Homo sapiens: one gene and its partners. The protein of the gene in region 2 purifies or fractionates together with the protein of the main gene of each other region. This does not show direct contact. Each region holds a gene or a part of one and is shown on either strand. Other genes may lie near its edges. The genes, in order: DDI2, NIBAN2, PAPOLA, NUP50, TMEM231, GTF2A1 and OSBPL11.

Region 1 (4,110 bases), on a different chromosome or scaffold from region 2:
TAAACCAGAAGTGATGAGCGTCACAGGTTGAGGTGTGCAACAAGAAAAAAGAGGTATGTCAAGAGAAATGGCAGGTAGGCAGGCTCTTACAGCATAGCATCAACACTGTGAAGCCACTGTCAACAACCTACTCTTTAATTTTCCAGTTTCAGAAATTCAACTATCAGTATATTTAGAGATACATGAACAGTCTCCTGGGAGCAGAGGCACATTTTAACGGTATTTATTTATTTATTTATTTTGAGACGGAGTCTCGCTCTCGCCCAGGCTGGGGTGCAGTGGCGGGATCTCGGCTCACTGTAAGCTCCGCCTCCCAGGTTCTCCTGCTTCAGCCTCCTGAGTAGCTGGGACTACAGGCACCTGCCCCCACAAGCGGCTAATTTTTTTTTTGTATTTTTTGTAGAGACGGGGTTTCACCATGTTAGCCAGGATGGTCTCGATCTCCTAACCTTGTGATCTGCCCGCCTTGGCCTCCTAAAGTGCTGGGATTACAGACGTGAGTCACTGCGCCCGGCCACTAACTATTTATAAGAGAAAATTTATTTATTTACAAGGAGGAAGCAAACTCAGGAGAATCAAAATGATCCTATGCAGGCTGGGTGCCATGGCTCACGCCTTAATTCCAAAACTTTGGGAGGATGAGGTAGGAAGATCATTTGAGGCCAGGAATGCAAAGCCAGCCTGGGCAATACAGCAAGACCCCATCTCTAAAATAATAATAATAATAATAATAATAAGCCAGGCATGGTAGCATATGCCTGTAGTCTCAACTATTTGGGAGACTGAAGCTGGAGGATCACCTGAGCCCAGGAGTTCGAGGTTGCAGTGAGTTATGATTGTACCACTGCACTCCAGCCTGGGCAACAGAATAAGATCTTGTCTCTTAAAAAAAAAAAAAAAAAAAAAAGAAGAAGAAAACTGCAATTGGAACTGTCTAATTTCAAAGCCCATTACTCCAGGAGTATCATATACAGCTTTCCCGAACATAACCCTAAAGTGGCCTGGTGAATTAGCTGGGTGATTTTAACAAGTACTACTAAGCCATCCATTGCCACTAAGAGACTCTATCCACTAAGAGGATCAAAATACTGTCCACTGCTCAACGCATCCCCATGCCCTGGACATGAAGAAACACCACCAACTGCCCGCTCTGACTCCCACTTCACAGATGCCATACTTCACTCCATCACTGCTTAGTTGCCACAATATTTCCTCAGCAGACAATAGCATTTTTTAAAGGAAGGCAGCATGATCTAACAATAAAAATGTAAAATCTAGATAACCACCACATTGAGCATGTCTATGAAATATGAAATGTTGCTTCAGCGCCAATTTCCTGGAAACACTAGACTGAAGAACCTGGGTGAGGCGCACACGTTCCTCACACTGACGAAGCAGCAGCTGTGCTCCATTTTAATCTAAGGACATAAATGAGATCAACTAAAGCTTAGCTAAAATTGTAATTGCCACAAAGAACTGATTTCTTTTTGTTTAAATAGGCTTAAGAGTCCAAGAAAGACAATTATTTTGCAGCAAAAGTCCCAAAATAAATCCATGTGATCTTCCAACCAAACATTCAGTATCTATTAGACATGGCTTCAAATCTCTACCAATAAAAACAAAAGGGGATCCGCTGCCGGCATTCTTGATCCTTCCACCATTCATGTTACCCAACTCAACAGCTACAAAGCCCAAAATTCAAGTTTTGCCAGTTATAAGAACATACAACAAGAAAATGTATACAGCTATGAGTCTTAATCAGCAAAACTGGCACAACTGCTGGTACTTACTCCAGAGGAGGCACCCCAGAGACTGAATTATAATCTTAATCAACATTTAACAATAGACTAATTAATAAAACTTCAGAACTTTTAAGCATGAGGTCAGGTGTTTTCTGGTCTCTGAATGAGAGCCTTCTATTAACAAAAAGCTTAACAATAAATTTCTAGCATTACAGAACATAAACTAGTAGGCCAGGTGCAGTGGCTCACACATGTAATCCCAACACTCTGGGAGGCAGAGGCAGGAGAACTGCTTGAGGTTAGGAGTTCAAGCCTAGCACTGGCAAGACCTCGTCTCAAAAAAAAAAAAAAAAAGTCGCAGCTACTTGGGAGGATCCCTTGACCCCAACATGTTGAGGATACAGTGAGCTGTGATTGCAACACTGCATTCCAGCCTGGGCGAGAGCGAGATCCCATCTCTAAAATATAAAGAATAAAGATAAAATAAGGACCATAAACCGGCCACAAAACATTTGGAATTACATCTGAATGGCTTCATAATAGTATTACCATTAATCAAATACCCAATATCTACCAAGTTATCTACATATACTACCCCATGTAATAGCCAATTTGACTTGTATAATCTAAATTTACTAAAAACCTTTCAAAGACTTTATGCTTTTGATCTGGCAACTGCATATCTAAGAATTCATCCTGAGAAAACAGAAATGGAGGCTACAGTCTTAAGTATATGGATGTTCATGGCATGTTACTTACAACTGCTTCCAATTTTCCCCAATATTATGCTCAACAAAAGGGAAATTGCTAAATTACAACACATCTATATGATGGTATATTATGTAGCCTTTAAAATTATCAATTTGGGGCCGGATGCGGTGGCTCACGCCTGTAATCCCAGCACTCTGGGAGGCCAAGGCAGGCAGATCATCCGAGGTCAGGAGTTTGAGACCAGCGTGGCCAACACAGTGAAACCCCCATCTCCAAAGAAAACAAAAAAATTAGTCATATGTCGTAGCATACACCTGTAGTCCCAGCTACTTAGGAGGCTGAGGTGGAAGGATCACTTGAGCCCAGGAGGTTGAGGCTACAGTGACCTGTGAGCGCACTACTGCCTAGGTGACAGAGCAAGACCCTGTCTCAAAAAAACAAACACACAGAAGATAAAATAGTGGTTTACAAACCACAAATCATGCTGTGTGCATTTCCAAGATCATACAATTACTGCTATTATTTGCCTTTCATTTGAGGGTCCTTGTATGTTGTGCCTACTTTTTCCATATGCCACCTACAGAGGTAAATTATCATGTCTCAAAAATATGAAGACATTAATTTAAAGTGAAGCTAAGTTCTGATAACTGTTTGAAGTTCACCCAGGCAAGTCTGCATCAAAGCATCAAACAGAGCCATGACTGGCTTCCAAGCCCACACTTCTATTAAGAGACAGAACATGCCCAGCTTTAATCACATGTACAAGCAGAGATGGCTTGTTCTAAATTTGTTATCACTGCATTGTAACTACTATCATCAGACTAGAGCTGTTAAAAATTAACACCTTTTCCAACTATATGCTTATGTGCAATTGACACTCAGGTGAAAGACTGAATTCTAAACCATTGATCACCAATGTAGGGCAGCCATGCAAGACAATTCTTTAACGGTGGAGGAAGAAACTGAAAATATTAGAATTTTCATTTCCATTTATTTTAGTTCGTCCTTCCTTAAGCTCCATTTTGTGTGTGTACAATGTTACTTTACAGATAACATATTATATATGCATATAATGCACGTTATGTGTATTATATGCACATGTGGCCATATATAATGTATACAACGTATCAGTTCATGTATATAATGTATTATATACATAACAGAAGCATAATCTGAAACATTTTACTGATAGGGATACATGAATGAAAGTTTGGACACCAGTGGTGTGGACACATAGTGGCAGGAAAAAATAGCCAGAACATAAAAATATATATATTTCCTTGAAGAAATGGAATCAGAAATGAGAGGTGAAGGAATGGGAATGGAGAATGTAAACAAGAGGAGGAGTTAAACAGTCTAGGAAAGGAAGGGAAGATGAGTAATATGAGAGAACCCTGGGAGGTAATGGGGGGGGACACTCAAGTAAGTAAACATGATATATTTATGGGTAAAAACTATAGTGATGTTTACTATTATGATTTGATGAAAGGAAATGACTCAAGTGTCTAGGGTGGATCCTGTTCCTGCCTGATGGGCAAGCAAGCAAGTGAAAGACAACCGACCACCAGACACCTTAAAATAGATACTGTGTTGTCAGGTTACAATGGAGCCAACAGAACAGACTGGAAAAACAGGAGCTGTTTATGGCTATCTAATA
Region 2 (4,010 bases):
TAATCCATTTCAAACCTACCTCCTGTGGTGTGCACAGGCCTGAAGTACAGGTGCTCAGCAAATTTAACTGTTATCATCATCACTTCCTGCCTTATGCCACAGTCACACTAAGAGCTGCCCAATAACAACGTGAAATGCATGAGAGAAGTGGTGAGTGCTTAGTTACCAGGGGTCAACAAGCAGAAAGTGGATGGCCTTGTCCCAGTGCAGATCAGGAGATCTGAGCACCAGCAGCCAAAGGATTGAGATCTGGGGATCCCACTGGTTAACCTGACTGTCTCCCCTGCCAGCTTGGGAGGTCCTGAAACTGAAACACATTCCCCTGGCACTGCGACCCACCCATGCCCAGCCCCATAGGCTGGTGCCTGTCGGTCTCCGGGTTTTGATTCTGGTAGTCTTTTGCAAACTGTAAAGTGCTACTGCTTTTTCCTTTTCTGATTTGCTCTGTCCCCCAAGCCGCCTCCCGAGTGAAATGCCCATATGCTGAGCCTGAGGCAAGCCCGCCTGGCACTGGGGCGGGGGTGCCTTCGGGCCCGAGCCTTCCCCACCCCCTTCCTATAGCTGTTGTGCAAGACCAGCGGGCACACCTTCTGGGGCAGGTCGAATCAAGGCCAGGGAACTTCCTGAGCGCGGGCAGTGGCGGGCGGGACTTGGGGGGGCAGGGGGCACTGTTCAGGGTAGAGGAGGGGGCGAACGCCGAATTCCGGCCCGTAGGTCCAGGCGTCCCCTGCCAGTGCCCCACATCCTCCTCGGCGCGATTCTTTTCCCGCGCGGGCAAGGTTGGGGAGGGGAGGGGGGTGACACTCAGGCTGGAGTCCCCCAGAGCACCCCCAGTTTTTCAGATGTCCCCACCAGCCCCGTCTCTTTCTCTGCTTAGGTACAGGGCGGGTGCGCTCTTCGCAGTCTCTCCGCGGTCTCCCTTTCTGGGACCTTCTCTTTGTCTCCTTCTCCAGGGCGGTCCCGGCGTCCACCGCCCCTGTGCCCCGCCCGCCGGAGGCAGCGGAGGGGGCGGGGCATACGGGGCGGGCCCTGGAGGGGCTGGGTGGGGCGCAGGGGGGTGCAGGACCGAGGGCGGGGCGGGGCGGGGCGGGGTGGGACGCGGCGGGCGCAGGGCAGCGGGCGGGGAGGGGGCGGGGTTGGCCTGCGGGGGCGTGGTCTGGTGGGGCGGAGCGGGGCGCCGGGGTGCAGGGCCGAGGGCAGGGAGGGGGCCAAGGCGGCCGGCTGGAGGGACGGGGCCCGACCGGGAGCGGAGCCGGAGCGGAAGCCGCAGCCGGGCGGCGGGAGCGGCGGGAGCGGCGGGAGCGGGGGAAGCAGGGCGGGCCGGGCTCCATGGCGCCAGCGGCGTCCGCCTGAGCAGCGCGGGCAACAGCGGCGGCGTCGGCCGGATCGGGCCGCGACACCTCCTGGCCATGGGGGACGTGCTGTCCACGCACCTGGACGACGCCCGGCGCCAGCACATCGCAGGTGAGGGTCGCGCCGCGCCACGCGCGCCCAGGGGCCTGCCGGAACCCCCGGACCACGCCCCCGCCCCGGCCAGCAGTTGGCGCCGGGGCCGGGGGCTCGGGGGAGTCAGGCCGGGCCGGTGGGAGCTGCCAGGGAGCGTGCCCCGCGTCCGAGCTCGTTCCCTCTGAGCCTGGGCGCCCCTTCCCGCGCTCTTCTGAGCGCCACCTTTCCCGGCTCAAGGGGACTCGGAACTCCTTCTCTCCCGGAACCCCTTCGGAGCCCGGGCTTGGCGGACCCCCAGCCCACGACCCCTGGCCGAGCTGGGGCAGGGGTCGCAGCCTGCTGCCCACCCTTGGCTGTCCCCGCCCAGAAGCGTTGCAAGCCCATCCGCTACCAGCTTTGGGATCTCCCAGACCCAGCCAGCTCGCGCTCACCTTCCTCCCCAGCCGTCCCGTCCCCAGCTCCGCCGGGCCCCAGCCCTGGTACACGTGGCGGAGGCTTCCTGAAGGACGCGCCCATGAAGGCCCGGGACTGATTCTGGGGAGTGGGGCCAGGGATCGATGGGGCGCCCCGGAGGCGGTGGGGTTGCATGTCCTTTGGCGCAGACAGCAGGCTGCCCCTGCTAGCAGCAGGGGCCCAGGGACCGGTCACCAGAGTGGGGGGCCCTCAGGGCCAGTCGCCAGCCCCTTCAACCCTGTTCTTCAGCCAACCCTACTCTCAGCCTATTACTGCACAGTGGCCACTTCTCCCAGGGACAGCTGTCCCCAAGGCTCCTGGGGAAGCCGGAGCTGCAGAGGGGGCCTGGGTTCCTTTTCCCCACAGACTCTGGAGAACAGTGAGATAGGATGAGGATCTCGGCTGCCTGAGAAACTCCTCTCTGGCCGATCTCTCCTGGCTGGTGGAGCTGCCCTGGGTGGAATCCCAGCATTTGCTTCCCAGACATCTGTCCTGTACACCTTGGTTTTCTCCTTTTTGAAATGGGGTCAGTGATTTCTTCCTTATTAATGAGTTGTTGGGAGGCTTACGTGAAGTAACTCATGTGGCTTGCTTAGCACAGAGCCTGGCATAGGAGAGGCACTTGTATGTGGGGTGACGGTTCAGGTGGGTCGCCCCTCGCTGTCTAGTGGGCCCTGAGCACCGCGTCCGCCTGCACTTATTTTTGTGTCCTGTAGAATTTCACCACCGTGTTCTCCACGCTCCCTTGAGAGCAGGAAGCCCTGAGAGCAGTGGCCAGGTGTCCTTTAACTCCATGTCTCCAGGGCCGCACCCATGCTGGGCACCAGGGAGGTGCTGGGGAGATCTGCCAAGTGACTGTGGTCCCGGGCCAAGTCCCAAGGCCAGAGTCCCTCCCTTGTGCCAGGCCTGGGGCTGGCTGGGCACAGGGGTGACTGGGGTGATGTGAAAATGAATCGGACCCTCTCTAGCCTCTGACCAGCGTGGGGTTAAGTCCTGGAAAGCCTCCTTATCCGACCAGGCCTGGACTGTGGGAGGAGGAAGGGCCAGGGCGGAGTCTTCCTGTCCCCTCCCTGTCGCAGCAAGCTCCTGGGGCTCTGTAACAGTCCCTCCATTCAGGACCTCCTGTTGAGGCCCCTCGAGGGGCCTGGGTGGGGTGTGCCTTGCATTCGGTGGGGTTTTTCCTCTCCCCATACTCAGTGCTGGGCCTCCCTGTCTTCCCGTCTCCTGGGCTGAGAATTGCCAGCCCACCCTCTCTCCCCTGGCATGTTACAGGGGAGGGGACTGAGACCACAGAAGGTGAAGTGTCCTTTACTGGAGAGGGTTGGATTTATTTTCTGGATACCAGGCTGGGTGGAAGAAAGTTGTGCCCACTCAGAGCCTGCTGGTCTCTCTCTTCTCCACACTTCAGTGCTATTTATAATCCTCTTTAAATGCCTCGAATTCCTGGTCCAGACTCACCTGAGGGGAGTTCCTGATGTGGGGGGGTGGGGTGTTGGAAGGGGGCAGCGGGGAAGCCTCCCAGTCTCCCCAGAGGAAGTGAGCTGCCTTTGAAATCTCTGCTGGAAGGGAATGAGGGCGTGTATTTGCCTCCTCCAGTGATCCAGGCACCCTCCTCACCCCACCCAAGGAGCAGTAGGTACTCTCAAAGCTGGCAATTAAAATTCCAGAACCCTCCCTACCTGAGGCCTTGTTCTCTGCCCCAGTAGAAATGTCAGAGTTAGAGACATCCCTTCCCACAGTGCTCTGAGTTCCCAGGCCTGTTAGGGTTCCAAGGTTTGACCTGCAGCTTTGTGCCCGCCCCAAGCAGGTGAGCAGGTGAATGCCAGCCTGCCTGCAAGTCCTGGCAAAGGTCAAGCGTGCTCCCGGCCACGGTGCTGTTTTGCTGCCACGGCACCTTTCATCCTGGGATTTCAAAGCCCCTGGCAAGCAGAGGCTTGTTTCCACACCAGGAGCCCCACGGGGCTGGTGGCAGGATGACTCCTGCCTCCTTACACGAGGCAGTGTGCCGTGAGGAAGAATCCCTGGCCTGGGATCTGGGAGGCCTGAGGATCCTTGGGTAGGCCACTTCCTCTCCCTGGGTCTCAGTTTCCCTAGTTGTGAACCGAAGTGGG
Region 3 (4,110 bases), on a different chromosome or scaffold from region 2:
AAGTAAAACTGGAAACCACCTAAATATCCATCAGTAAAGAACTTGTTAATTACAGTACATGCTTACAACTTAAAACTATGCCAAAATAAAGCAATGAGATAGTATGTTTAGCAGCATGTGTATCAGGAGAAAAAAAAGTTGCAGAATATAATTACGATCATAGCTGCCATCTACTGAAATTTCAACATAACCCACGTATTAAGTCAAGCACTTTACATTATTCCCAATTTTTTCTAACAACTCTTACTATTAAACTAAGAAAGAAGGCTTGACTAAGTTTACTGGACCAGAATATGAACCCAGATAGCTGATATCATAGCCTATAATAATCATCTCTATACTGAGGCACCTCTGCACATCATTTACAATATGTAGTCATATAGATAAAGATATATATTTTTTTAATTTTAGAGATGGTGTCTTGCTCTGTTGCCCAGGCTGATCTAAACTCTTGAGCTCAGGCGATCCTCCCTTATAGCTCAGATTACAGGCATGGACCATGACACCCAGTTTTTTTTTTAACTATTTGTATATTATGTCCATAACACATTCATAGAAACACAATCAAGCAGAATTGAGACCGTAAAATTTTACCTTATATTTTATAAACTTGTTTCAACATGTTAAATTATTTAAAGTAAATATTAATAATCTTGCAAAAGTTGAAAGTCAACTAATTCTACCGTTCACCATTAAATTAGAATAGTTATAGCAAGGAGGCTAAAATAACCCCCTATAATGGCAGCAAGGGGCACCAAACAAATCTTCAAATTAAAACAATAATTAGCTTTTGGTTATTAGCTAAAAACTCAGTTTATGCTAATTAAAACACTATTTTGTGAAATAAACAAAGATTTTTAAAATAGCTTTTTAGTGCAATACTCTGTGGCTAGAAATAGTAAATCCAAAGCAAATATTGCTTTATTTATTGCTCCAGGAAGCTGCTAGGGCGGCCAAGTTATTAAACATCAACTCAATTTTCCTAAAAGCACTTTTTTCTCATCTACCTTTTGTCAGAAAGTACAGTATTTATGAGGTTGAAATGTACCAAATTCCTAAATATGCATAAAAGACAATGCTAAATAAAATCAGAAATACAAAGATGCTTAAGGTAGTCTCTGTTTTCAATGACAATCTCAAATTTAGTCTGGGATTCAGATCCTTAAACAACAAGTGCAAAGTAGAAGTTTGGGAAAAAAACCATTAAAGAAACAAAGATAAAATCATGACTATGCCAGAAGGTGTACACAGTAAATGATCGGAAAGGAGAGGCGTAATCTAGGCAGACGACTAACACACAAAAGGACAGAACATCATATTTCCATTGGTGTTTTCCTTAAATAGTTAATGTTTAAGTACTTTGCATCTCAATTTAATTTTTTTTAATAGAGTCAGGATCTCACTATGTTGCCCAGGCTGGTGTCGAACGCCTGGGCTCAAGCAATCCTCCCACCTTGACCTCCCAAAGTGCTGGGATTACGGGCATGAGCCACCACAGCCCGCCTGTGTCTCAATTTATACAAAACTCATCAGGCACTACTGATTAATCCCCACCTAGTGATATTAGGCATTTGGAACAAGTTGTGGCCCATGATATTAACAGAGTCAACTGCCCCAATTTATAGCTACTACTTAACAGAAAACACTTTATTATTTGCATGATAGAGTTAAAACTGAAAGCCAAACTTGCTAAATATTCTTCTTTGAAACCAATCAGATAAACTACAGTTAACTTATTTAAAGTAACAATTCATCACAGTAGAATTTGCTGTTTAAAGGTCTTAACCTTAATGTGCTCATTCAAAGGACATGAACAGAAAAGATACAAGGGATCTCTCTAAAGTATCTCAATGTGCATTAAATATTAATTATTAGCCAAAATAATACAATCTCCTTTTTCACAAGGTATACGGCATGATAGTAGCTTACAGGCAAGATTATCGCCAAAATAATCTATTTGCTAAGAAATTAAAACGATGGTTAACTGGCCCACCGTAAGGTGTTCTGTGTAAGTGGTACTAAAAATATTTAGATCCCACTATATTCTTAAAAACGTACTGCAGGTGGGCCATCCAGCCAATATTTAGTAAAGCAGCAGCAGAGGCTCAAAGATGATGTTAATAGTTTGTTTATGCTCAAGGGGAATAAAGTATGTATGATAAAGCCCAAGGCCAAACTGAAAATTCAAGGTTGCTTATGCAGAGAAAGGGTACTTGCTGTTCAATTACTACAATGGCCAAGTTATTTTTCCTCACTTCCAAAGGGTACTTCCAACTGCCCCTTTGCGCACAAGCGCACGCGCGCGTGTGTGTTGTGTCCCTCTCTCTCATATGGCTAGGAGAAACTTAAAAAAAAAAAAAAAAGCCAAATTGTACACTGCTACATCAACTTGCCAAGTACAACTTGAAAATGAAAGAAATGTAAATTTAATAAAGTATGAAACAGGACCTGAAAAAGTACGAAAGAGTGTGAAAATGTATCAGAAAATAGTCAAGATTATAGTAAGTCATAGTATTACAGACACTAATTTCAGGAAATGTAATTTAAATGTTTCTAATGATCAAAATGACAAACACTATTCTTGATCAACCTCAAAATTATAAAAACTGCCGTAAAATCCAAGAATCCAATTTCTGGACAAAATATAGAGGGAATAAAAATTTGAAAAATAATTCTGTAACAAAAGAGGAAGAAAGAAATCTAACAGAATGCCTTTATTTTTTCTTTCCCAAATCCTTAGGTTTCCACAAATGAGATTGCTATACAGTTCAGCAGGCCTACATACAATCCAAAGATTAAAAAAAAAAAAAAAAAAAAGCAACTCCCACAAAAGGTACTGGCCACAACAAAGCGGCGTCTAAGTGGCAAATCTGTGCATGGCTTTAAATAAGAATATATATGCAAATAAAGCCACTGAAAGTAGTCGTGTGCCACGTTAACAGAATTCTTCAGTCAATGACAGACCACACATATAACAGTGGTCCCATAACAGCATAATACCGTATTTTTACTATTCCTTTTGTGTTTACATACATTTAGATACACAAATGCTTCCTAATGTGTTACAAGTGCCTACAGTATTCGGTACAGTAACATGCTGCCACAGGTTTATAGCCTAGGAGCAACAGGCCATATCATTGGTGCATAGGCCTAGGTGCATAGCAGGCTATACCATTTAGGTTTGTGTTAAGTACACTGTTCCCACAATAAAATCTGAAAAATAACACATTTTTACAGAATATATCCAATCATTAAGCAATGCACAAGATCTCAGGTTCTATAGTATGTTACATTCTGTGTATACTACAAGTATACACTATATGTTACTTTTGTTTATATACTTTTGTATACATTTTTATTATGTAAATACTTTGAGATTTACATGTTATACACACAAAAAAAATTGAGCTTGAAAATTAATTCTACTTGAAACTATACAGAGATTCCAACTGGCCAGGCATGGTGGCATGAGCCACCTGTAATCTCGGCAATTTGGGAGGCCAAGGTGGGATTGCTTGAGCCCGGGAGTTTGAGAGCAGCCTGGGCAACGTGGCAAAACCCTGTCACAGTAAAAAATACAAAAATTGGCCACGTATGGTGGTGCGTGCCTGTAGTCCCAGATACTTGGGAGGCTGAGGTGGGAGGATCCCTTGAGCCTGGGAGGTCAAGCCTGCAGTGACCCATGATCACACCACTGCATTCCAGCCTGGGCAACAGTGAGTTCCTGTCTCAAAAATAAATAAAGACTCCAACTGAGCTAACCACACATGGTTCCCTACAGTGTCCACAGGAGATGGTATAGTGTACTGGAATGACAATGCAACACAGAATCCAGAGCTGATTTAAGCCCCAATCTACAATTTAGTACCTTTATGACCTTGGTCAGGTATTCTTTTGAGCCTCAACTTTAACCAACTTTTAGGGGAACCAATTACCTCCTATAATGTTGCTGCTTTGTAAATCATAAACTGGCATTGTCCAATTATTTAAAAGCTGCTAGGTAATTAGAACCCTGAACATACAGAATAAAAGAGACACACACACCCTCCCAAAATGAGAACTAGCTAAGAAGCCAAATGGTCTCATTTTACCTGAAAGAAGCTAGCTTTA
Region 4 (4,110 bases), on a different chromosome or scaffold from region 2:
TTATAAAAATGACAATAATTCAGTAAGATTCCAATCCAGAGCTTAAAGAAGTGACTGAAGTTTTGTTACGTAACACCCTAAACCTCCACCGGAGCACTCCATGTAAACTGACAGACTAAAATGCACACTTAATGGGGGGGGGGGGGGATGCCAGAAGGGAGTACCTGCAGGATTTTAACTATTTTGTGAAAAATAAGAATCCCTTTTAATGGGAACATACCTCTTAATTCTAAAATAACTTCCAATATATAGAAAACCTTAAAATGGAAAAATCTCCATGCTTATGACAGAAAAAAAAAATCAACACTCTATATGCAAATTACCCACTGGAAAATTCCATCTCGGATGAGTTTTTAACACCTTCACCCCTGAATATTCCTGTGACTACATCTACAAGTATCAGTAATAGCCAAAGATAGAAAAATACTTTTTTTTTTTTTAACAGGGGACAAGTTGTCAGAAAAATCATTCCAAAGCCCCAGTGTAAGTAATTTAAGCTTTGTCTGAATTGCCACATGGGTCACTGCTCTGGTACCAAAGGTATCCCCACTAACGGGGTCTCCCAAACACGGGAGACCTAGGCCATCATTTAAACACATGTATTAGGCTGTGTACAGTGGCTCACGCCTGTAATCCCAGCACGCTGCAGGGCCAAGGCAGGAAGATCGCTTGAGCCCAGGAGTTCAACACCAGTCTGGTCAACATGGTGAGACGCCCCCCATCTCTACAAAAAATAAAAAAGTTAACCAGGTGTGGCGGTACGTGCCTGTGGACCCAGCTACTTGGCAGACTGAAGTGGGAGGATTGCTTCACCCCAGGAGGTAGAGGCTGTAGTGAGCTATGATTGCGTCACTGCACTACTAGCCTGGGTGACAGAACGAGACCCTGTCTCAAAAAAATAAAAAACCCCACATATATAAAAGGATCCTCTTAAAGAGAACGGCAGTTGCATAAAAACTCACCAAAAAGCAATTCTAAGAAAAACAACTGTGATGCTCAGATGATTAGGTCACACGACTGTCCGTCTTATCCCTCCAATCTCCCGAGTCTTCTGATGCTTAAACTGTGATAACCAAGGGACAAGGAACAGGCGCTCACTGAGGGGCATCCTGCCTCCACTGGGACTCGATTCAAATCCCCAGTGCCTGCCTCAGGAAAGACTCCCCATTTGTTTTATTTATGGGAGGCAGAGAAGAAAGAAAAGGGGAGACCCTTATTTCACCCTGTGCCCAGAGGGCCCGTGCCTGAGGATATACTTGAAAGCAGGGCAAGGCAAAACAGTAATGGAAGTCTAGACTCCTGATAGAAAACCGTAATATTTCAGAGGCAAATTGGCAAATGCAGTTTTCTTCCTCAAGGATCAGTATGTCCATATGTCTGAGAAGTACACTTTTTCTTTTGTTGAGGCAAGGTCTGTGCTGCCCAGGCTGGAGTGCAGTGATGCAACCACGGCTCATGGCAACCTTGAACTTCTGAGCTCGAGATACTCCCACCTCAGCCTCTAGAGTAGCTGTGACTACAGGCGCCCACCACCTGGCCTGGCTAATTTTTAAAAATTTTTGTAGAGATGGGGTCTTGCTATGTTGCCCAGGCTGGTCTCAAACTCCTGGCCTCAGGTGAGCCTTCCACTTTGGCCTCCCGAAGTGCTGGGATTACAGGTGTGGGCCACCTCACCTGGCCTCACTTTCAACTGCTTAGAAGTAGGTGTCTTCACAGACATCACCTGTTCACAACCACCATGTGAGGAAGCAGCATCATGACATCACCCCACTTTTTAAGCTAACAACAGAGGTCTGGAGGGCCCAGACCTTGTGCCTTGTCTGGGGCACTGACGATACACACAGGAAACATCACTTAGACACCACTGCCACGCTCTGGAAAGGAGGCGCCTCCAAACCCACAGGAGGAAAACAATGTTGATTTCTTCTCTATGGCTATGAAAAGTCTACATTTGTAATGTATAGTCAAGTACTGTTTTGCCACATGACTTTATTTACAGTGAGATCTCCTAAGTACAAATCAATTCAGGGGACATTCATGATGAACTTGATGAACTTTTCCAAAAACACAATTTTCAAAAAACGTCTTTAATTCACTTGTTTTTTATATGCTAAACCATGTGTGTTTGAGACTTTTCAAAGTCAGGTGTTTTCAAATTCATTTTATTTTTAATCCTTATAAACAACCCTACAAAAGTCTTACTCTTTTATAAAGCAGGAATCTGAAACTCAGAGAAGCTGATTAGCTCTGTCTGAGATCACACATGGAGAGAACAACGTCTCAATGTGAATCCAGACTCATATTTGGAATCAAAGTCTCTGGGTTTCCCAAGAAACAAGAATCTTATGCAAACCTCGACTCAACGACAAAGCTGGTACTTACCTTTGCATTCACCACTGTCACCTTCTGCTTGGCCCTCCAATGGTTTAGTGGGAAATGGTGAAGAGACTGGTTTACTCTGGGTAGTATCTTTGCCAAATAAACTGGAGTTTCCAGGGGAGAAAGAAAATCCAGTCAGGGGGACAGAGCTTAATGAGCCCAAAACAGAGCTATCAACTTTCTTGCCGAAATTAAATGAGGCACTTGTCGCTCCTAGTGATGATGGGTCCGTTTTCTTTTCAGATGCCACCTCCATCTTCTTGTCAGGTGTATCTTCAGTTTTGTTGCCATGAAACAAAAACGTTGACTCTTGCTGTAATTTTGTTGAGCCAAAAAGGGAAGGAGACTGTGTTTCAGCTGCCACTTTGTTAGATTCACTTTCAGAATTCCTGCCACTGTTCCCGTGTTGCTGTTCAATGTTTGCTAAATATTTCTCATAGTCTTTAAAGATAGGTGTCAGATCACAGAGGGGGTTTGTATTCACGTGCTTCACTATCCAATCCCGCACGGAGCAGTTCAAGGCGGCCAACTGCTTGTGATAGGCATTTCCGACACAAGCTTTACTGGAAGCAAGGCCAGAGGAGGAGGGCTGCTGACTGTCCCCATTAGTTTTGGGATTTGAAACTTTATCAACCAAGGTGGTAGGGCCATTTGCAGCAAGAGAACCTATAGAAAGTTAATAATTGAACCATTTATTTAGCCTAATTTGATTAAATCATCTAGATTTTTTTGCCACTCTGCCTTCATACTTTCTGCTTTTACTGTATCTCCCCCCACACCAAGACAGTCTTGCTCTGTCACCCAGGCTGGAGTGCCGTGGCACGATCTTGGCTCACTGCAACCTCTGCCTCCCAGGTTCAAGCGATTCTCCTGCCTCAACCTCCCGAGTAGGTGGGATTACGGGCACCCGCCACCACACCCGGCTAATTTTTGTATTTTAGTAGAGATGGGGTTTCGTCATGTTGGCCAGGCTGGTCTTGAACTCCTGACCTCATGATCTGCCCGCCTCGGACTCCCAAAGTGCTGGGATTACAAGCGTGAGCCACTGCGCCCGACCTACTGTGCCCTATTTTTGTGACCGCTCAAAAAGTATGTGTTCAAGGAGTAGAATTTAGTAACCAGTTATCAGTAAAGCCGATGAATAAAGATCAAGTCAAAGTTTATACAAGAACACTAACCACCATATGCTTGCTCTACACATTTTAAAAATAATCTTTTCCTTCAAAAGGACGCCTATCTGAGATGTGATCGGGCGCGTCGAGGGTGGTGTGGCAGTAGACAAAAGGATGCCTATTTCAAACAGCACTGTTAGAACAGCAGGTCAGCATTAACACTTAATCCCCAAGGTTGTTGGGATGAACAGTATTAAAGTACAGTCGCCCCTCTGTACCTGCAGGTTCTACACCTGTGAAATGCAGTCCTCAGCCAGGTGTGGTGGCTCACGCATGTAATCCCAACACTTTGGGAGGCTGAGGTGGGCAAATCGCTTGAGCTCAGGAGTTTGAGACCAGCCTGGGCAACATGGCAAAACCCCATCTCTACAAAAAATGTAAAAATTAGCTGAGTGTGGTGGTGTGTACCTATAATCCCAGCTACTGGGGAGGCTGATGGGGGAGGATCACTTGAGCTCGGGAGGTTGTGGCTGCAGTGAGCCAAGACCACACCAATACACTCCAGCCTAGGTGACAGAGCGAGACCCTGTCTCAATGCAGTACTCTGGGGATGAGAAAC
Region 5 (4,110 bases), on a different chromosome or scaffold from region 2:
GACATTTTCATCACAAGGGTTCCAGTTCTGCTTGTCTCTGTTGCCCCCACTAACCTTGAAAGTCCTGAGCAGCGGCTGAATGGGCTCTACCTGTGACTCACCGTTCCTCTCCTGGTAGGCAGCAACAATATGGGTGAGGTCGTAGTCATAGGCAAAGGGGCTGGTCCCGTTGATCACGGATATCTGGGACACGGGAGGAGGATGTGGTGTGAGCACCTGGGAGACTCCTCCCCTTTTCCTTCTACCCTTCTGCCCACCCAGGCTGGTCCCACAGAGCACCCTCTTGTTCTTGGTGGCCTACTGCAGTATCAATAATCTTTTCTTCAAAGATGAATAAAACAGGCTGCTGCCCACCCAGGCTGGTCCCACAGAGCACCCTCTTGTTCTTGGTGGCCTACTGCAGTATCAATAATCTTCTCTTCAAAGATGAATAAACTCTCTTGCAACAATTTAAGCCCATTTACTCTCAGTCTTTCTTTCTGTGGATGGAAATAAGGGGTCAGTGTCCATGTTTTACAGGTTTTAAAGCTATTTTTAAAATACCCCTCTTTATCTCAGCGGGAGAAAGAATTCCTTAAATTATTTTAACAGACCGTATTTTCGCCAGGTGTGGTGGCTCATGCCTACAATCCCAGTGACTTGGGAGGCTGAGGCAGGAGGACCACTTGAGGCCATGAGTTCAAGGCCGTAGTCAATGATGATCATGCCACTCACTACACTCCAGTTTAGGAAACAGAGAAAGACTTCATCTCTCAAAAAAAAATAAAAATAAAAAAAAATAAAAAGCCAGGCATGGAAGCTCACGCCTCTAATCCCAACACTTTGGGAAGCCCAGGCAGATGGATCACTTGAGACCAGGAGTTCGAGACCAGTCTGGCCAACATGGTGAAACCCCATCTCTACTACAAAGAAAACAAAAATTAGCCAGGCGTGGTGGCATATGGCTGTAATCCCAGCTATTCAGGAGGCTGAAATCAGAGGATCTCTTAAGCCTGGGAGACAGAGGTTGCAGTGAGCCGAGATCATGCCACTCCACTGTAGCCTGGGTGACAGAGCAAGACTCTGTCTCAAAAATAAAAATAAAATACAAATAAAAACCCCTACACAAAGACAAAAAAAAGAAACCATACTTCCAACTCCTTTGTCATTTTCTTGGTCTTTTCTGGGTGCTAAGTTCTTTATCACTTTTAAATATAGAGATATAGATAAAATGCAAACCATAAGCATATAATCCCTTAAAGGAGGAAATAATTGCTTGCTGTTAATGTAATCTGATATATAGACATTCAAACAAAAAGTGCCATATTCATTTCATATGTTGCAGCTTCCTATTCTTTACAACTTATATTGATTATAGTCAGAGCAACAGTAAAACCCACTATATATCTACAAGTCTGGGTTTATGGCTGTAATAACCGATAACATCCCTTTTTCATTTTCAGAAGTACCTCAGCTCAACTTCTATGGTCCCCATTGTGATAAAATAAAAGTGAGGAATGAGTGATTAGATGCATGAGTTCTGCACACAGACAGGCTCTGTTATCTTTCAAGATTTGAGCCTTTGGGAAAATTAATCACTTTAAGCCCCAGTTACGTCTTCTGCAAAATGAGTTCATTATTTAAACAAGTATCTCTGTGAGCTTACCATCTGCCAGGCAGTGTGCTAGGCACGGATGTGATAGTATTTGAGATGCCACTGCTGTCAAGGCTGAGGGAGACAGCAAATAAACACACAAACACATATCCTGAGTAGGCCAGGCGGCAGGAGGGAGAGTCTGGCTGAGGAATGGTGGAAGGAGGGGCTGCTACTGTAGAAGCAGGTCAGAGAAGGACTGGGCTTGGGGATATCTGAACAGGGACCTGAATGGCATGGTCCGATAAGCCACATGGATGCCTGGCAGAGGAAATGGCAAAAGCAAAAGCCCTGAGGTGGCAGCTGCTTCTTGGGTTTGAGGAACAGCAAAAAGGCCAGGGGGGCTGGAAGGGAGCAAGCGGGGGCAGTGATGGGACAAGTGGCTGGAGTGCGGGGAAAGGACAATGCAGGCAGCTCAGAGGTTGCCATGATGATTAAAGGAGATGATATAGGTAAACGCCTGCACTCAGGGGTGGCATATGTTATGAGTTCAGTAAACTATGGCTAGTAATATTTCTGAAATACTTTACATGAACATTTTACATCATCATTTTACAGTGTCCTTCGGAGTACATCCTGCGTGTGACCAAGCGTGTGTATGGAAGACACAATGTGTGTGTGTGCACCCACGTGGACCTAAAAGCAATAAGCAATTTAGTTCTTCGACAAACACAGATTTTGTTTCTCTTCCCTTCTAGGTGTAACTATGCGTGTACCTTCTCTGTAGTTTGAAAAAATTCATGGCAAGAATTCTACAGAGACCCTCTTTGGTGCCACCCACAAAGAAATGATATTTCTACTTTTCTTTTCTTTTTCTTTTTTTTTTTTTTTTTTTTTTTTGAGACAGAGTCTTGCTCTGTTGCCCAGGCTGGAGTGCAGTGGCGAGATCTCAGCTCACTGTAACCTCCACCTCCTGGGTTCAAGCAATTCTCCTGCCTCAGTCTCCCAAGTAGCTAGGATTACAGGCACGCACCACACGCCTGGCTAATTTTTTGTATTTTTAGTAGAGACAGGGTTTCACCAGGTTGGCCAGACTGGTTTCAAACTCCGGACCTCAAGTGATCCATCCGCACATCTCCGCCTCCCAAAGTGCTGGGATTACAGGTATGAGCCACTGCGCCTGGCCTGACATTTCTACTTTTCATTCCCCTCTTTAAAGAACTTAATGAACAGTAACACAGAGAAACAAAGGAGCTGGACAATGAGAAGCGCTCTTACGTTGTATCGGGCATCTAGGCCACCACAGCTCAGCGGCTGCTTCTGCTGCAGCCTCAGGTCTCCGTTCACGTATAACTGGGATCCCGGGACAGGAAAGGAGGACTGGAGAAACGCCATGCTCTGCATCACGAGGGTCGCCATCCTCTGAAATCATTAGAAGGACCAACAATACCAACCGCCATCAGATCTGAAGGGCTCTGGGTGCTAAGAGTCACCTGTCTTGGCTGAAACCTAAGAGGCCCTCACATACCTAGCGTAGCCATGCAGGAAACACTGCCTAGAACCTTCTGAGCTATTAATAGCCCATGTCAGTTAATATGACTAGTGAAAACCATTCCATTGGCCTAAGTTAAATCCCAAACTACATGGGGAAGAGGGCCCGCTAGAGTGCGGGTCTTCTAGAAATCAGAAGAAGGACTCTGGTCTACTAAAAAGACACAAGGGAGAGGACAGCCTCCCAGCGGACTGACTCACGTGTAATCGATAGGAGAAAGTCAGGATGAGCTGCACACCGAGAACGTGCTCCGTGGACTGCAGGGGAAGCTCCAGCTTAAAATGTAACATGTCCGTCTTCCCATCCTGGTTCCTGTCTTCTTCTCTAGTCTAGGAAACCCAAACAGGCCCAGCAGCCCTGGTCACTAATGAGTCTGGGAGGAATCCACATCACTTCTGTAAATACACAATGACCCACTGTCTTGCTGTACACAACAGGCATTATCTCCTCCACTAAAAGAGAAAAGCAGATAGATGTAAGTGCATTAATACTGGGGAGAGACACAAAGTGCATGGTCCCTGAACTTCATATCTGGGCCTTTCAAATGTTCACTGGCCAAAATAAATGGGCAATAACAAAAAACATCTGGATAGTATTTGTGCCTTTCAGTTGTCTCATGTGATCTTGCTTATTTTGCACTGATATTTTTTTCTTTTTTACAAATATGCCTGAATTTGTATGGAAATTTTAAGTAGCATGTCAGAATAGTCTTCTATGTCTCTAGAAGTCAACTTGTTAAAATAGAAAAACACCTAATCCTAATCATTATGCATTCCTCCAACAAACTCAAACTCAACAGAAAATCACCAAGCTCTATTTTTTTTTGTTTTTTTTTGAGCCGGGGTCTAACTCTATCGCCCAGGCTGGAGTGCAGTGACGCAATCACGGCTCACTACAACCTCCGCCTCCCAGGGTCAAGGAATTGTCCTGCCTCAGCCTCCTGAGGAGCTGGGATTACAAGTGCCCACCACCATGCCCAGCTAAT
Region 6 (4,110 bases), on a different chromosome or scaffold from region 2:
AAAAAAATGGATCAAGCACACAAAAAATATCAAGGATACATAAAGAGCATCTGAGCAAACCTACTGACAATATAAATCTAACAGACACATACAAATACCAAACAAGTGCAGAAAACACATTCTTTTCAAAGCATATACAAAAACTGACCAAATCAAGCAAGTCTCAAGCAATTTCAAAAGATTCACACATCACACAGATCATATTCTCTACAAACAAAACAGTTAAGTCAGAAAAGAATAGAATGGGAAAAACACACTAGAGAGAATAAAGCTAAAAGTTTACTCTTTGAAAACATTAATAAAATCAACACATCCCTGGTAAGACTGAACAGGGAAAAAAAAAGATGGCACAATAATTATATTAGGAATGAAGATGACAAAGGATTCTGGCATCAAAAAGACAATATCATGATTAACTTCATGTTAATCAACTTGAAAATTTAGATAAATATATAGAGAGTCCTAGAAAAATATAACTTATCAAAACGGTCTCAAACAGAAACAAAATACTTGAAGGGCATGAGATTACTAGACCCAGGTATCTGTAGTGTCATGTTTTAACAAATATCAACAGAAGAATTAAATACAATCTTTGAAAAAAAAAAAAGAGTTCAAAATACAGGAAACATGTCCCCAAATTCATTTAACAAAGCTACCATAACTGAAAACCTTGTAAGAAGAGTATGAGAACAGAAAATCACACAGTATCTATCAATCATAAATATCTACAAAAAAGTCCTCAACAAAATGAATTCAGCAATTTATAAAAAGAGAAATATAAAATGATCAAGTTGTGCTATCCCAGGAGTACAAGATTGGTTTACAAATAGAAAATCAATTAATGAAATCCATTATAAATAACATTACGTGAGAAATTATACAAATCATTGCAGAAAAGGTGTTTAATTAAATGCAACATTCACTTACAGTTTAAAAAACAAAGCAATGCAAAGAAGGGAATTTACTTAACCTGATGAAGATATCCATTAAAAAAAAAGAAAACCCACAACAAACATTAAACTTAACAGTGAAGCATGGAAAAGATTACTTTTCAGTTTAAGAAGAAGAGAAGAGTGCCTGCTATCACCACTTCTAATCAATACTGTTCCCGAAGGCTTAGCCAATGAGCCACAAAAAACTGCCGTTCTTCATATAAGATGTGAAAGTCTACACAGAAGATACAAAAGAATCTACAGATACATTATGAGGACTAACAAAAGACATTAGGACGGTGGCTGGTTCAAGGATGAATATTAAAAGCGCTACATATTTCCATCCTACCAATAAACTGGAAAAGGTAATAAAAACATGTTACTTCAAGAAGCACTGAAACTATGAAGAATTTAGGGGGAGGAAACGGGCAAGAGACCTCAATAAGCACTTCTATACAAAACACAAATATCAAATAAATATACAAAAAGAGGCTAAAACTCCTAAGTGAGGAAATGCAAACTAAAACCAAAATGAAATAATACTATTTTCTACCTACCAGACCAGCAAAAATCAGGAAGCCTGACACTATCAGGTATTGATAAGGGGGTATGGACATCTGCACAATTATGTATTGAATGGCAGAAGTGATTTGGCATTTTATTATAAAGTTGCAGATGTGCATGACTTAGGAGCCAGAAGTTCAATGTTCGGTATAAAATTTAGAGAACCTCTTGCATTTGTGTCCCCAGAAGACATACACTACAATATTTTATAACTGTTTGTAACAGTAAACAACAAGAAACAATCCTTATGTCCACTGGATTAGAAAAATTGACAAATAAAATTATGGTATATTCAGCAATGAAAATAATTATAGCTATATGCAACAACTTGGATAAACCTCAGGAATATCATTTTAAGGGGAAAAAACCAACTTGCAGAAGAATACGTAATTACTTCATTTACGTTGTAAACATGCAAAACTAAACAATATGCTATTTAGGAATATAAATATATATGGTAAAATATAAAAGCAATTAATAATCAACACAAATGTATGAGCAAAGGTACTTTGATGGCCTAGGAATGATGGGATTAGGGAGAGGCATCTAAGGCACTTTAAATAATGGAATTTTATTTTAACTAGATGGTGGGCACCAGGATGATTTTTATCTTGAAACATTTCTATTCATTTGTGTCTATTCAATATTCAATAATAAACTATGTTTTCTTCAGAAAAAAAATTACTTAGATAATTTAGAAGAACTTTGTACTAAGAAACAAAAAGACTGCATTTTAGGCTAACGAAGGCAATTAACAGTGAAAATTGTGGTGGGACAAATAGTTTTTGGAGCCTAGTAACTAAGCTGAAATAGTGAGGAAAACAAAGGCATATTTATATGCTTCTAGAAGAACACAGACATTAAGGGTACATAGGTTTTTAAGGAAGTGGTATAGAACATGGACCAAAAGGTTTTAAATATTTAATAAATTTGTGACATTTGGTTCTTGAGTTTGCTCTCTCCCCAAATGTTGCCACGCTTTTTAAATTACTGAAGCAAAAGATTAACCACATCTATTTATCTACCAATGTCTTATGTTTAAGCCACATTATAAATGCGTAAGCCAGAGTTAGAATTACCTGTACTCTTTACTACACATATTAATACAATTTAATTTGTTATACATTTTTTATTACCAGCTATATGAAAGTTATATTTTATGAAGATAAATATAGCCAGAATATAAAAACCTTACTAAAGTTAAAACAATCTAACTTTATCTTTAAAATCTTATGTTGTACAGCACCTAACAGTCTCTGAAAAAAACAGGATATAATTTATCAGTGTTGTACCAACTAAAAAAGGAAATAATCAAGTAGATTATTTTAAGTATGTTACTAGAAACTTACTTCTTCCACCTGCCCATCTTCAGCTCCATCTTTCTCTTTGTCTTCCTCCTCATCATCATCATAGTCTTCTTCTTCATCTTCATCTTCTTCAGATGATGTATCCCCAGTTCCATCAACTTGTAAGACCAATGGAGCTTGTGTTTGAGCAGGCTGGGCCTGCGGTTGCTGCTGGCCAGTTGCAGTTATCTGTGCTTGGGCTGGTGTAGGTGCTGCCACTGTCGTAGGTATAACTTGAGTCTTATTTCCTGTAAATAAGATTTGCTGAGGCTGGATGATGACACCTGTCTGTGGTGAAATCCCTCCAGGAAGAGGAGCCAGCACCTAAAGCAAAAGAAAACCACATAACAGTAACTAGTTAAGAGGATCAAGTATGGTACACAGAAATAGAAACAAATGCTTAAGATTCACCAGAATGGCCATATTTCATACACAGTTAAAAACTACCAAAGTACAAAAGCAATTAGTTTAACTAGTGTAGTGACCCATTAAATTTCTATTTTATCAAATTTCTAGAAAATAAGGATTTTCTAAAGATAACTGCTTCATTTATTGAGCACATACTATGTATATGCCAGCTACCAGGACAAAAGTTATACACTGCCTTCACATGAAGAACACTGGACTGAGAATCTGAAAACCTGGGTCTACCTTTTTTTTTTTTTTTTATAGATGGAGTCTCGTTCTGTCACCCAGGCTGGAGTGCAATGGTGTGATCTCGGCTCACTGCAACCCCTGCCTCCTGGGTTCAAGCAATTCTCCCACCTCAGCCTCCTGAGTAGCTGGGACTACAGGTGCGCGCCACCATGCCCGGCTAATTTTGTTATTTTTAGCAGAGACGGGGTTTTGCCATGTTGGTCAGGCTGGTCTCGAACTCACGACCTCATGATCCGCCCGCCTCCCAAAGTGCTGGGATTACAGGCGTGAGCCACAACGCCTGGCCAACCTGGGTCTACTTTTGTCTAAAGTCAGACATAAATACAGCAGACGCAAGTCATTTAACTCCTCTTGGCCTCTGTCGTTTCACTGTCAAACTAGGCTTAATGGTTCTCAATCCTGGCTGCAAATATGAACCACCTGGCAACTTAAAAAGTACTGATACCTTGGCCATACCCCTAATATTCTGACTCAGTGTGAGATAAAAGCTAATTATTTTTCTAAAAACCACCAGATCAGATTTCTGAAGTTCCTTTCCAGGTTCTGCATCTAGGATTCTAAAGTAAGCCACAACTTGAAAAAATATATACTAACAAATATTAACTATATGT
Region 7 (4,110 bases), on a different chromosome or scaffold from region 2:
TAATGTTTATTTGCTGAATGAATTAAGCAATGGGAAGAAAGAAACAGAATTTTTCTATGAAGCCATGAGGCAATTCTCAGTAACCTGCCCACCTCCTCCCCAAAAAATTCAACTCGCAGACTGTATACTCAAAATCGCAAACAAAATAAAGTCTAACTGTATTTTAATCTATGACAAAAAGTATAAAGTCAAGAGAGGGGTCCTCCCTCCTGCCAAGAGTCTTAAAAATGTTAGCACTCTTTGGCCCTAGAATTTCACTTTTAGGTATCCCATCTATGACAAATGATTAGAAATGTAGACAAAGCCGGGTGCGGTGGCTCACGCCTGTAATCCCAGTACTTTAAGAGGCCTAGGCAGGCAGATCGCCTGAGGTCAGGAGTTCGAAATCAGCCTGGCCAACATGGTGGAACCCCGTCTCTACCAAAAATATAAGAATTAGCCGGGTGGCACCTGCCTGTACCCAGCTACTCGGGAGACTGAGGCACAAGAATCGCTTGAACCCAGGAGGCAGAGGTTGTGGTGAGCCAAGATTGCACCATTGTGCTCTAGCCTGGGCAACAAGAGTGAAACTCCATCTCAAAAAAAAAAAAAAAAAACAAAACAGAAAAGATATGTAGTGCAAAAATGTAAGGAAACTAAGAAATCACAGCACATTATTAATAAACCAACTCTTGCTCCTCAAGACTTGGTATATTTTTAACTAGATTTTGGAATAATATTTTATAGTTTCCAGTTACATGCCTACAATTATCTTTCTCTTGTTTTTACCAGCATCTATAGCAGATGTCAGATACAGAAAACAAAAACTAGAGTGTAGAAATATGTATCAATTTTCCTTTAACCCCTGCAGAGGAAAAAAAAAAAAAAAGCAGACATTTATGACTTTTTCTTCAAATCAACTCAGAAGAAGAGGTAAAACCTCTAAGACCATGAACATTCATTTATATTTAGGCCAATCTCATTTTCCCATCCGCGAACAGGCACTTTTCCTTATAATAGTATTGACAGTGGAAGAAACCACAAAATTATTGTGGTCTGACCACAAAAATTATTTCTATACTACACATTTGCAGACTTTTACACATTTACTGAAAAGTATAGCTGTTTGCTAATGAGGAAAATAGATTTATCTGTTAATATGATTAGCCAGTGAGGAGCTCAAAATTTTAAAAAAAAGCAGGCCATCAAACACCCTGGTTTGTCTTTCAGTTCCTCTTTTGAATAGTTCTCTTCTGCCCATTTTAATAAGCAGGTGGCATATTTGCAGATTTGTGAATTTCTCTACAAGCTGACATGAAGAATACAAAAATAATGAAAACATGCATATTTTATAAAGTGTGAATATTCACTATGAAAAAGGAAGGAAAGACCCAGAACTGGGAAATCTATCTTCTCTGTAAATGGTAAAGAAAGCTCACATCATATGAATATAAATTACTCTGGAAACAAGAAAATACAAGGCTAATCTAATAAATTAAGTTCTTAAGTTTAATTTTTCAAAAGGGCCAGGCACGGTGGCTCACGCCTGTAATCCTAGTACTTCAGGAGGCCGAAGTGGGTGGATCACTTGAGGTCAGGAGTTTGAGACCAGCCTGGCCAACATGGTGAAACCTCATCTCTACTAAAAATACAAAAATCAGCCGGGTGTGGTGGCAAGTGCCTGTGGTCCCAGCTACTTGGGAAGCTGAGGCAGGAGAATCGCTTGGACTTGAACCTGGGAGGCAGAGGTTGCAGTGAGCTAAGATCTGCCACCGCACTCCAGCCTGCACAAGAGGACCAGACTCTGTCTCAAAAAAAAAATTTTTTTTTTCAAAAGGTCATCATGAGATTGTTTTGTAAATGCCACTGATGCCCTTCCTTTTCCTGATTATTTTGATGATCCTCCTAAAATAAGCCTTAGAATTCATTCTTTCGTTGTTTTGGGTGTGCACATTAATTTGGCATTAATAAAAGAGTGCTTCAGACATAGTAGAGACTCAAAAATATTTGCTACATAAGTTAGAACATGAGTAAACCATAAAACCAACCATGTACCAAACTAGTTATTATCAATAATTATTCATTCCTTTTAGAGAGTTTATCTACTTTTAATACCTCTATGTAAATATCTATCTAGAAATAAAAGTTCTCCCACTTACTAGCTATGTAACCTTAGCTACATGCAATATATAACTTCATGTACTATATTGCCTAAGTCTATATTGTCATTTAGACTTAGGTTTTCTTCAACTGCAAAACAGGAATAATAATGCTGTATCTTCCTCCAGAGTTGGGAGGATTAAATGTGATAACAGATGTGAAAACATTCTGGATAATGTAAAGACAATTATCTACATTTCCAATACTCCATATCTCTGAGGACTGGCTAGATAAGACACTTAAACATTCTGGCAACTTTAGCTGGACATACCTAAAACCAGATACATAATTTGACTCCCCAAGTCCGTTTTCCCCTCTAGTCTTTACAATCTTGAGTCTATTATATTAACTGCCTAGGCATTTTCTGGCATAAATCCCAATAATCCCCACCTGCTGGTATTCTCACACCCTTGTGTGGGACTTGTTTCTGAAGAACAGTGAAAAGTGATGTGAATTCACCTCAGTGCTTAGGTTACAAAAGACTGTTAACTTCTCTCCAGGTAGCACTCTCTAGTCCTCTTACCTCCTCATTCTCAAGAAACAAGCTGCCAAGTTGTAAGATGCTCTGTGAAGAAGCCCATGTGGCCAGTGAACAAAGGAGGTCTCTGGCCATCAGTTCATGAGGAACTGAGTTTTTTGTCCAATGGGCCAAAAGGAACTGAATTGCACCAAGAGTCTCATGAATCAGCTAGGAAATGAATCCTTCCCAGTTCAGTCTTAAGAAAGACTCAGAGCCAGAAGACCCAGCTAAGCTGCACTGAGATTCCTGACCCAAAGACACTATGAAATAATAAATGCTGCTAATATATTAAATTTGGGGGTAATTTGTAATGCAGTAGTAGATACACTATCTCACACTGTATTTCAAAATAAATTCCAGATAGATTAAAAAGTTAAATATGAGCCTGGGCAACATCGCAAGATCCTGCCTCTAGAAAAAAATTTTAAAATTAGCTGGGCATGGTGGTGTACACCTGTAGTCCCAGCTATTCCAGAAGCTGAATAGGAGGATCACTTGAGCCTAGCAGTTCAAGGCTGCAGTGAGCTATGATGGAGACACCACACTCAACCCTGGGAGACAGAGAGAGACCTTGTCTCAAAAAAAAAAGTTAAATTGTAAAACTACCAAATTATTTTAAAACTTCATGAAAACAACTATTTATTTAACTATTTTTGAGACAGGGTCTTGCTCTGTCACCCAGGCTTGAGTGCAGTGGCACAATCACAGCTCACTGGAGCCTAGAACTCAAGCAATCCTTCCACCTCAGCCTCCTGAGTAGGCATGCCACCATGCCTGGCTAATTTTTTAATTTTTTGTAGAGATGGGGTCTCTCTATGTTGCCCAGGCTAGTCTCAAACTGCTGGGCTCAAGTAATGCTCCCACCTCAGCGCCCCAAAGTGCTAAGGATCAACACTTTGGGTGAGCTACAGTGCCAGCCAAAACCAAGTACTTATAAAAGTTACTTTTTATAATTAGAAATGGATGGAAAAGAGGAATAAGAGGTCTGACTTAAAAGTTTTCTGTGTGTCAAAAAAAATGAAATTAAATCTGAGGACTAGTGAAATATTTGCAGAAAGTATAGCAAAGAATTTATACAAAATTAAAATATATTGCATGTCATCACATGTTTATTAAATAAAGAACTAATATAAATTTCTCTGGAATTATAGTCAAGAAATCAGTAAAAGATAGCATTTCCAGAGAAGGAAACCGAGTGGCTGGGAAAGTATGTAAGGGAAATGTTTCATTGTATATACTCATCCCTTTACCTATTGAAAAGAAGAAAAATCAACAAAATATTTTTAAAGGAATATTGGTATTTAATGTTGACATTTTAATAAGAGATATCAAGCATATTAAAAAGAAAAATATTAAGACCTAACAGGAAATGTATAAAAAACACATATGTAGATGTTTCACAAAAGAAAAAAAAATGATCATAAAGAAAAATGAACTAAAAATGCATCAGA

Evidence for each region.
Region 1: the proteins of NIBAN2 (region 2) and DDI2 fractionate together in Homo sapiens (co-fractionation; one large-scale study listed by BioGRID). This does not show direct contact.
Region 3: the proteins of NIBAN2 (region 2) and PAPOLA fractionate together in Homo sapiens (co-fractionation; one large-scale study listed by BioGRID). This does not show direct contact.
Region 4: the proteins of NIBAN2 (region 2) and NUP50 fractionate together in Homo sapiens (co-fractionation; one large-scale study listed by BioGRID). This does not show direct contact.
Region 5: the proteins of NIBAN2 (region 2) and TMEM231 purify together in Homo sapiens (co-immunoprecipitation; one large-scale study listed by IntAct). This does not show direct contact.
Region 6: the proteins of NIBAN2 (region 2) and GTF2A1 fractionate together in Homo sapiens (co-fractionation; one large-scale study listed by BioGRID). This does not show direct contact.
Region 7: the proteins of NIBAN2 (region 2) and OSBPL11 purify together in Homo sapiens (co-immunoprecipitation; one large-scale study listed by IntAct). This does not show direct contact.

What each region holds. Positions count from the first base shown.
Region 1 is NC_000001.11:15,620,185-15,624,294, reverse strand, and holds part of DDI2 (protein DDI1 homolog 2), read right to left. Parts: intron 1-4,110. UniProt on the Homo sapiens protein: Aspartic protease that mediates the cleavage of NFE2L1/NRF1 at 'Leu-104', thereby promoting release of NFE2L1/NRF1 from the endoplasmic reticulum membrane.
Region 2 is NC_000009.12:127,566,274-127,570,283, reverse strand, and holds the start of NIBAN2 (protein Niban 2), read left to right. Parts: upstream 1-1,210; 5' UTR 1,211-1,409; coding exon 1,410-1,464; intron 1,465-4,010. UniProt on the Homo sapiens protein: May play a role in apoptosis suppression. May promote melanoma cell invasion in vitro.
Region 3 is NC_000014.9:96,508,673-96,512,782, reverse strand, and holds part of PAPOLA (poly(A) polymerase alpha), read right to left. Parts: intron 1-4,110. UniProt on the Homo sapiens protein: Polymerase that creates the 3'-poly(A) tail of mRNA's. Also required for the endoribonucleolytic cleavage reaction at some polyadenylation sites.
Region 4 is NC_000022.11:45,177,173-45,181,282, reverse strand, and holds part of NUP50 (nuclear pore complex protein Nup50), read right to left. Parts: intron 3,046-4,110; coding exon 2,383-3,045; intron 1-2,382. UniProt on the Homo sapiens protein: Component of the nuclear pore complex that has a direct role in nuclear protein import. Actively displaces NLSs from importin-alpha, and facilitates disassembly of the importin-alpha:beta-cargo complex and importin recycling.
Region 5 is NC_000016.10:75,542,501-75,546,610, forward strand, and holds part of TMEM231 (transmembrane protein 231), read right to left. Parts: intron 3,578-4,110; exon of another isoform or gene 3,455-3,577; coding exon 3,326-3,454; intron 2,996-3,325; coding exon 2,852-2,995; intron 184-2,851; coding exon 102-183; intron 1-101. UniProt on the Homo sapiens protein: Transmembrane component of the tectonic-like complex, a complex localized at the transition zone of primary cilia and acting as a barrier that prevents diffusion of transmembrane proteins between the cilia and plasma membranes.
Region 6 is NC_000014.9:81,189,674-81,193,783, forward strand, and holds part of GTF2A1 (transcription initiation factor IIA subunit 1), read right to left. Parts: intron 3,167-4,110; coding exon 2,846-3,166; intron 1-2,845. UniProt on the Homo sapiens protein: TFIIA is a component of the transcription machinery of RNA polymerase II and plays an important role in transcriptional activation. TFIIA in a complex with TBP mediates transcriptional activity.
Region 7 is NC_000003.12:125,588,765-125,592,874, forward strand, and holds part of OSBPL11 (oxysterol-binding protein-related protein 11), read right to left. Parts: intron 1-4,110. UniProt on the Homo sapiens protein: Plays a role in regulating ADIPOQ and FABP4 levels in differentiating adipocytes and is also involved in regulation of adipocyte triglyceride storage. Weakly binds 25-hydroxycholesterol. Interacts with OSBPL9 to function as lipid transfer proteins.